Linked DNA regions of Homo sapiens: region 2 is linked to region 1. Evidence: fine-mapped expression QTL. A gene starts in region 1. The other region holds a variant in brackets. All regions are shown on one strand. Distances are between the middles of the regions.

Evidence for each region. PIP is the estimated chance that this variant, and not a neighbour inherited with it, causes the effect.
Region 2: its variant is fine-mapped to the expression of SAE1 in whole blood (TOPMed, PIP above 0.99).

What each region holds. Positions count from the first base shown.
Region 1 is chr19:47,128,482-47,132,865 of GRCh38, forward strand. It overlaps SAE1 (SUMO1 activating enzyme subunit 1), which reads left to right and starts at 2,354. Exons shown (of 9, transcript NM_005500.3): 1 at 2,354-2,547. The coding sequence starts at 2,450. RefSeq lists enhancers at 2,128-2,742, 2,435-2,674.
Region 2 is chr19:47,155,760-47,160,143 of GRCh38, forward strand. All of the region lies in intron 5 of SAE1 (SUMO1 activating enzyme subunit 1), which reads left to right. It overlaps LOC124904730 (a long non-coding RNA gene), which reads left to right and starts at 911. Exons shown (of 2, transcript XR_007067277.1): 1 at 911-1,422; 2 at 2,637-4,384. RefSeq lists enhancers at 1,281-1,824, 1,825-2,366, 2,367-2,909. The variant G/A (reference allele first, on the strand shown) is at 2,477.

The DNA of each region.
Region 1 (4,384 bases):
TTTTTTTTTTTTTTTTTTTTTTTGAGACAAGGTCTGTTGTCCAGGCTGGAGTGCAGTGGTGCCATCATAGCTCATTGCAGCCTCTAACGCCTGGGCTCAAAGGATCCTTCCACCTTAGCCTCCCAAGTAGCTGGGATTACAGGCACGCACCACCACACCCAGCTAATTAAAAAATTTTTTTTTTTGTAGAGACAGGGGTCTTGTCATGTTGCCCAGGCTGGTCATGAACTCCTGACTTCAAGTGATTTTCCTATCTCAGTCTCCTAAAGCGCATGGATTACAGGCATGAGCCACCATGCCGGGCGCTAAGCAATTCTTATTATTTATTTATTTATTTATTTATTTATTTTTTTCTGAGACGGAGTCTTGCTCTGTTGCCCAGGCTGGAGTGCAGTGGCGCGAACTCGGCTCACTGCAAGCTCCATCTCCCAGGTTCATGCTATTCTCTTGCCTCAGCCTCCTCAGTAGCTGGGACTACATGCGCCTGCCACCACGCCCGGCTAATTTTTTGTAGTTTTAGTAGAGACAAGGTTTCACCATGTTAGCCAGGCTGATCTCGAACTCCTGACCTCGTGATCCGCCCACCTCTGCCTCCCAAAATGCTGGGATTACAGGCGTGAGCCACCACCTCCGGCCTAAGCAATTCTTAAATAAAAATCTATGATTCCGCCAGGCATGGTGGCTCACACCTGTAATCCGTGCACTTTGGGAGGCCGAGGCGGGTGGATCACAAGTTCAGGAGTTCGAGACCAGCCTGGCCAACATGGTGCAATCCCTGTCTCTACTAAAAATACAAAAGTTAGGTGGGCATGGTGGCTTTTTTTTTTTTTTTTTTAGACGGGAGTCTCTGTCATCCATGCTGGAGTGCAGTGGCAGGATCTTGGCTCACTGCAACCTCTGCCTCCCAGGTTCAAGCGATTCTCCGGCCTCAGCCTCCCAATTGGCTGAGACTACAGGCGTGTGCCACCACGCCCGGCTAATTTTTTAGTATTAGTAGAGATGGGGGTTTCACCATCTTGGCCGGGCTGGTCTCGAACTCCTGACTTCGTGATCTGCCCTCCCTGGCGTCCCAAAGTGCTGGGATTACAGGCATGAGCCACTGTGCCCTGCCAAAAAGCCTATGATTCTAACATCAGAAATCCTTCCACCTCAGCCTCCCACGTAGCTGGGACTATAGACTCAGTACCACCACACCAAGCTAATTTTTGTATTTTTAATAGAGATAGCGTTTCCCTATATTGACCACCTGGGGCCATCCCTGGTTTTTTTTTTTTTTCCCTTCCTTCCTTCCTTTCCCTCTCTCTTTCCCTCCCTCCTTCCTTCCTTTCTTTCTTTCTTTCTTTTTTTTTTTTTTTTACAGAGTCTTGCTCTGTTACCCAGGTTGGAGTGCAGAGGCATGATCTTGGCTTACTACAACCTCCGCCTCCCGGATTCAAGCAATTATCCTACCTCAGCCTTCCAAGTAGCTGGGACTACAAGTGTGAGCCACCATGCCCTGCTAATTTTTTTATTTTTACTAAAGACGGGATTTCACCACATTAGCCAGGCTGGTCTCCAACTCCTGATTTAAAGTAATCTGCCTGCCTTGGCCTTCCGAAGTGCTGAGATTACAGGTGCGAGTCACCGTGCCTGGCCTATTCCTGTTTTCTTAACGCTCCTCTCTCCCACTGGGCCGTGACTGCCTCTAAGGCAGAGATGTGTTCATTTTTATTATTATTGTATGTCCAGGGCTGGGCACAAAGTGCAACACATAGTAGGGACATGAAAGGCTGGGCACAGTGGCTCATGGTTGTAATCCCAGCACTTTGGGAGGCAGAGGCGGGAGGATGGCTTGAGGCCAGGAGTTGGAGACCAGCCTAGGCAACAGAGGGACCCCATCTCTATGAAAAAAAAAAAAAAAAATTGACAGTTCAATGTCACCTCTGATAAGCCTTCCCTGACCACCCCTGTTACTCTGTAGCCCCATGTCCTGCTTTATTTTTCTCCAAAGCATTTATCATCGCTGGGTTTATATTTATTTCTCTTCGGGCTTTTCTCACTGGATCGTAAACTCCATGAGGACAGGGCTTTGTCGATTTCACTCAATACCGTTATTTTACAACATCCCTATTGCTGGGATCTCAGTATGCACTCCTTAAATATTTGCAGAATTTAAGTGCCACATAAGTGACCACGTGGGCAACGCCCTCGGGGCCTTAAGCCGCGCCATTTTTGGGGCTAGGATTGGTTGGACCCTCCGTCACGTGACATGCAGTCGCCGGATCGCCTTTGAGTCTCGTGAGGTACTTTTGGTCCCAGGCTCCGCGGACGAGGTACTGCGCAGGCGTGGGAGGGTCTGCGCATGCGCAGAAGCACTCCGGGCGTGCTGCCGGCGGCGGTAGGTGGCGCGCGGGTCCGGCGGGCGGTTGGCTTGAGCGGGACCGGAGCTGAGGCAGGAAGAGCCGGCGCCATGGTGGAGAAGGAGGAGGCTGGCGGCGGCATTAGCGAGGAGGAGGCGGCACAGTATGACCGGCAGATCCGCCTGTGGGGACTGGAGGCCCAGAAACGGTCAGGGCCGGCGCGGCTTGAGGCCGCTAGGGTCTGGAGGGGGCGTCTATTCTGAGGCGTTTGCGGCCCGGAAGGAGCGGGAAGGTGTGATTTGAAGGGAGGAGGCGGGAATTCTGTGCTCTGGGATCGTCTCTCTCTTGGGGGGACTGGAGGAGTTGATTGGGGATGTTTCTGGAAGGTCTGGGAAGTGGTTGGGAGGGCCGTTCCGAAGGATGGGAGCTCTGAAGGGGGCGTTGGGGAGTCCTGAGAGAGCGGGAGAATTCAAACTCAGGAAATCCGAGGCCCGAAAGCGGTGATTGTGGGGTTTGATCGCGGTTAGGGGATAAGAGGGGCTGGGGATACGTGGAAAGGGTGAGGTGAGGGACGCAGTTCATTCATTCGAGGGTATGGGACCTGGTTCCGTGCTGCACACAGGGGAGACTGGACTGGCCAACCGGACAGACGGGAGCTTACACTCTTGTGGGAGCTCACGGGCGGGCCAGTCTGAGAGAATGCGGGTTTTGAGGAGTTTTGGAGCAAGTTATCTCAAATGGGAATCTTGAGAGGCTCGGAGAGGCTGGAGGGGGACGGCCGTAGGCTCCCGAAAAGGTTGCTTGTGTTTGGTATGGGGCTGTGTCTTGATAGGACAGGAGACGTAGTTTGGGCATTGTGGAGTAGCTTAGGGAATTCTTTTTTTTTTTTTTTTTTTTTTTGAGATAGTCTCTCTCTGTCGCCCAGGCTGGAGGGCAGTGGCGCGATCTCGGCTCACTGCAACCTCTGCCTCCCGGATTCAAGCGATTCTCCTAACTCAGCCTCCCGAGTAGCTGGGATTATAGGGGCCCGCCAGCACGCCCGGCTAATTTTTGTATTTTTAGTAGACACGGGGTTTCGCCATATTGACGAGACTGGTCTCGATCTCCTTACCTCAAGTGATCCACCCGCCTCGGCCTCCTGAAGTGCTGGGATTACAGGAGTGAGCCACCGCGCCAGGACGTCTTTTGTTTTGTGCAGTTGGGTGACCTCGGTTCACTGCAGCCTCTGGCCTCCCGGGTTCAAGACTTCCTCTCACCTCAGTCTTCTGAGTAGCTGGGATTACAGGCTCGCGCCACCATGCCTGGCTAATTTTTGTATTTTTAGTAGACATGGGTTTTCACCATGTTGGCCAGGCTGGTCTCAAACTCCGGACCTCAAGTGATCTGCCCGCCACAGCCTCCCAAAGTGGTTGGATTACAGACGTGAGCCACTGTGCCCAGCTTGTTTTTTTTTTTTTTCTTTCTCTGTGGCCCAGTGGAGTGCAGTGGTGGGATCACAGCTCACTGTAGCCTCAACCTCCAAGGCTCAAGGGATATTCCCTCTTCAGCCTCCCAAGTAGCTGGGACTACAGGCGTGCCCCACCACATCATCCGACTAATTTTTGTTTTTTTTTTTTTTTGTAGGATGGGGTTTTGCCATGTTGCCCAGACTGGTCTTGAACTCCCAAGCTCAAGCGATCCTCGGCCTCAAGAGATCTCCCCCCATCTCAGACTCCTAAAATGCTGGGATTACAGGCATGAGCTACCATGCCTGGCCTCATTGATCAATATTTTTACTTAGCCTGGACGCAGTGACTCACACCTGTAATCCCAGCACTTTGGGAAGCTGAGTTGGGGGGAGGGGACCTCTTGAGCCCAGGAGTTTGAGACTAGCCTGGGTAATGTTGCCAAACCCAGTCTCTACAAAAAAATACAAAAATTAGCCAGGCATGGTGACATAAGTTTATAGTCCCAGCTTGTCAGGAGACTGAGGTGGGAGCATCACCTGAGCCCCTGGGAGGTGGAGGTTGCAGTGAGCCATGATCACACCACTACACCCCAGCCTG
Region 2 (4,384 bases), 27 kb after region 1:
TTTTTTTGAGATGGAGTCTTGCTGTGTCCAGGCTGGAGTGGCACAATCTCAGCTCACTGCAACCTCCACGTCCCAGGTTCAAGAGATTTTCCTGCCTCAGCCTCCCAAGTAGCTGGGACTACAGGTGTGTGCCACCACACCCAGCTAATTTTTGTATTTTTAGTAGAGACGGGGTTCCACCATGTTGGCCAGGATGGTATTTATCTCTTGACCTCGTGGTCCACCTGCCTCAGCCCCACAAAGTGCTGGGATTACAGGCATGAGCCACCATGCCCGACCAGAAAACTTTTTTTTTTAAAGCAGCAAAACACCAGCCCTGGGTTACAGTAGCAAGACCCCGTGTCTACAAAAAAAATGTAAAAATTTGTCTGGCGTGATGGTGAGCACCTGTAGGCCCAGCTACTCATAGGCTGAGCTGGGAGGATTGTTTGAGCCTGGGAGGTGGAGGCTGCAGTGAGCCATGGTCACACCACTGCACCCCAACCTGGGCCACCTAGCAAGATCCTGTCTAAAAAAAAAAAAAGCAAAACAAAAAATTTTTTGTATTTTCTCTACTAACAATACAAAAATTAGCTGGGCAAGGTGGTGCGTTGCTTGTAGTCCCAGCTACTTGGGAGGCTGAGGCAGGAGAATAGCTTGAACTGGGGAGGCGGATGTTGCAGTGAGCCGAGACGGCAACACTGCACTCCAGCCTGGCGACAGAACGAGACTCTGTCTCCAAAAAAAAAAGTTTTCTTTGCCTGTTTTTTTCCTTTTGCCAAATAACCTTTAATAAGAAAAATCCTTCAATGTTGTCTTGCTGTGTCCAGGCTGGAGTGGCACAATCTCAGCTCACTGCAACCTCCACGTCCCAGGTTCAAGAGATTTTCCTGCCTCAGCCTCCCAAGTAGCTGGGACTACAGGTGTGTGCCACCACACCCAGCTAATTTTTGTATTTTTAGTAGAGATGGGGTTCCACCATGTTGGCCAGGATGGTATGAATCCTCAGATTCATATTTGTTAATGTAGTTTATATTAGGGGCTCAGCCTCTATTTGGATTAGGTGCAATAATTACATTTATAGAAAGGAGTGGAGAAGGGATCAGAAGACGATGGTTTCTGTAGCTAGTGCTGGAATCTGAGATGGGAACCATGCGATGGGGAAAGCAAGATGAAGGGGCCAGAATTGGTTTCATTGAACTGAGAGGAAAGACATGACCAAGCCCATATTTACTCTTTGCTTTGTAGATTTAAATGTTGAGAAAGAAAAACAGCTGGTCAGAATGTTGAGTTAAATTACGCTAACGAGGGGATTCTAAAGAGTGCAGAAACCACAAAAGAGACTGCAGAAAACCACAAAAGTGGAACTCTCAGACTCTCCAGCAAGGCGGCGTTGGAGATTTTCTTTCTCATTTTGTGTTTGTGTTGGAGTAGTTTGGTGCTGTAAGTGTGATACAGAGGAATTAAGCCCTAATTTTAGTGTCTATTCACAGAACCATAATTATCCAGAGTGAACCTTGGTGTTTTGGCCAAAACTTGGGTGCCTTTCTTTCTTTTTGAGGCCCAGTCAAGATTTATCTGAATAGCTCCGTGAATTTGGTGGGGGGAGATAAATTGTTAACAAACGGAGGAGTACAAAAGCTGCTTTGTGGGTGCTGTCAGTTTATAAATCACACCCTCTTACAAGTGTGACACTTGGCCTTGGTGTGAAGGGTTTTATGGCTTAAGGGCCTTCTCTGATTGAGGCAGGTCTTTCACATTCAAATGGAGAGAGTGCCTAGCTTTGTTAGCCATTCACAGCTGGAAGTTTCCCTGGAGTCAGTTCTGATGGTGCCCACTGGGGTGGATCTGGAAACCTCTTTTGGGAACCACTTTATCTCGCTATGAGGAGAATGTGGGCAGCCCAGGCCTTTGCCCACCATTCCGGAGGGCCCTACAGGCACAGAGGTTTTTGTGCAGCCTCTTCCTACGTGGAGCTGAGCTGGAAGGTATCAAAATATTCCCCAGCTGACATTGTTAGTCAGCTGTTACACTTGAACAATGCAGGCTCGGATTCCAACCCCAAGCCCTTAAGGTTACGAGGCATTCAGTGCATTCCTGCTGACAATCCCTGGGATTCCAAACCTTGCCTTTGTGCAGCCTCACCAAGGGCCCTGCGGACCGACTGGGCTGGACTGGGTTTTGGCCATGGCTTTGTCACCTTGCAATAACATGCCTCCTTCCGTTTTGGCACAGATGGCCCTGTGATTTCAAGGTTCTCTTCCAACACCAAAGATTCCTTGATTCAGATGCTGCCCTTTTGCCTAATTGTACAGAATAACTAGTTGGGTTGTGCTCAGAGAGTGCAGGGTGGGGGTGGGGAAGCAGCTACTTCCTGTTTCCTGTGAAAGGTTTTCTGGTTAGGGTTCCCTTCCCCTCCCCGCTTTCCCTAGGTTTAACCAAAGGTTGTAAAGCCACTTTTGCTTCAAGGTACACTTTGTGCTCCTAAATTAGTAAC[G/A]TTGAAAAACAAAAAGGAAAAACAGCCTGTGGTTTTCACACCCTCTAGGAAGCTGGTGGGCCTTTCTAGCACCTGTGCCATTCTGATAAATAAGGGCTTAGGAAAATGCCTAGCCCAGAAATAGGTGCTCAGTAGTTTGTTTGCTTCCTTTGGTGCTCAGGAGAAGATTTGAGACGGATTTCGTCACAATCAGGTCTCGGGCACAAGCCTCACATGGACACTGACATGCAGGAGCCAGAGGAGACAGCAATGAGGTGGTGGTAAGGAAGTGCCCAAAAAGGTTTCCCAGAGGAAGAGTTGTTTGTGTTGGCATGTGAGGGACAAGCTTTCCAGGCACCAGAGCCAAGAGCAGTGCTCTGTCCGAGGAAGTAGGATAAACCGAAAGACGGACGTAGGGGCAGAGTTGCTGTGGCTGCCCTCACTGCCGCAGCCAGCTCCTTCCATGAGTTGCAGAATGCCTACTGTGTGCAAGGCACTGTGTTGAGTGCAGGGAATCACATCCAGTCTTGTTGTCCCCATCTATAGCTGATAAAGAAGCTATGAGAAATTAAGTGACCTGACCAAGGCCACACAGCTGTGGAAGAAGGGGCGAGAGCATAGACAGTGGGTAAGGGCATAGGCTCACCCTATGATTTACAAAGAGGGATACCCCTGAAGTTGCTAGGGTAACGTGACATATTAGGAGGATGGTGGGATAAAATATGTGAACATCGGGATCATTCTGGAAAACCTTTAGGATAAAAGGCCACTGTCATGCTCCCATGTTCACGTTTCTTTATTGTGAGTTATCTGTGTTAGGTGCTGCCAGAGATGATGAGATGCCTGACAGTGGTTACTCTGTAATAGCTCTTTAAAAATTAAAGACAAAGTAGGGTTTGTTCCTGACTGTACTAGAAATACAGATTTAATTTTACCTCTGCTCCTGAAATAGGTGACTAATTTGGAGTACTATTAATACTCTTTTCATGAATTAGTTGAGAAATTCCACAGTTGAGGAGTGATTCATTCTTTTGACTCCCTCTTTCTGAGCAATTTGTTGACAGCCTTCTCATCCTCTCTTACACCCGTCATTAAAGAAACAGTCGAGTTCTTTTTCTTTCATGTGGTACCTTGGTTTCCACTGCTGGTGGCCCTTAGGTTGCTTGTCTCTGTCTCCCCGCTTCCATTTTAAGCTCCATAGGGGGAAGGTAGTCTTGTTCACTGCTAGACTCCTAGTCCAGTGTGTAGCACAGTCATATCCACGGAATATTTGTTCAGTGTACTGGTGGCTGTTAACTGCAGCATAATCCAGCAACCCTGGAGATTATTTTCTTCCTTTTTTTTTTTTTTTCTTTGAAGCAGGGTCTGACTACTCTGTCACCTAGGCTGAAGTGCAGTGGTTCAAACACTGCTCACTGCAGCCTCCCAAGTAGCTGGAATTACAGACATCCACTACACCTGGCTAATTTTTAATTTTTAAAAATTATTATTATTTCTGAGATGGAGTCTTGCTGTGTCACCCAGGCTGGAGTGCAGTGGCACAATCTCAGCTCACTGCAGCCTCTGCCTCCTGGGTTCAAGCAATTCTCCTGCCTCAGCTTCCGGAGTAGCTGGAACTGCCAGTGTGTGCCACCACACTCGACTGGTTTTTGTATTTTTAGTAGAGACGGTATTTCTCCATATTGGCCAGGCTGGTCTCGAACTCCTGGCCTCAAGTGATCCGCCCACTTTGGCCTCCCAAAGTACTGGGATTATAGGCGTGAGCCACAGCTTCCAGCCTGATTGTTTCCATTTTAAAAAAGAGTAATTGAAGTAACCTTTGTTACCAATGAAATGAATTAACCTTCTAGTATATTAATTCTCACGGTTTAGGTTATTTGAACTAAGCTGAGAGAACAGAATACCAAAGAAGACAATAGACTTGCCCAG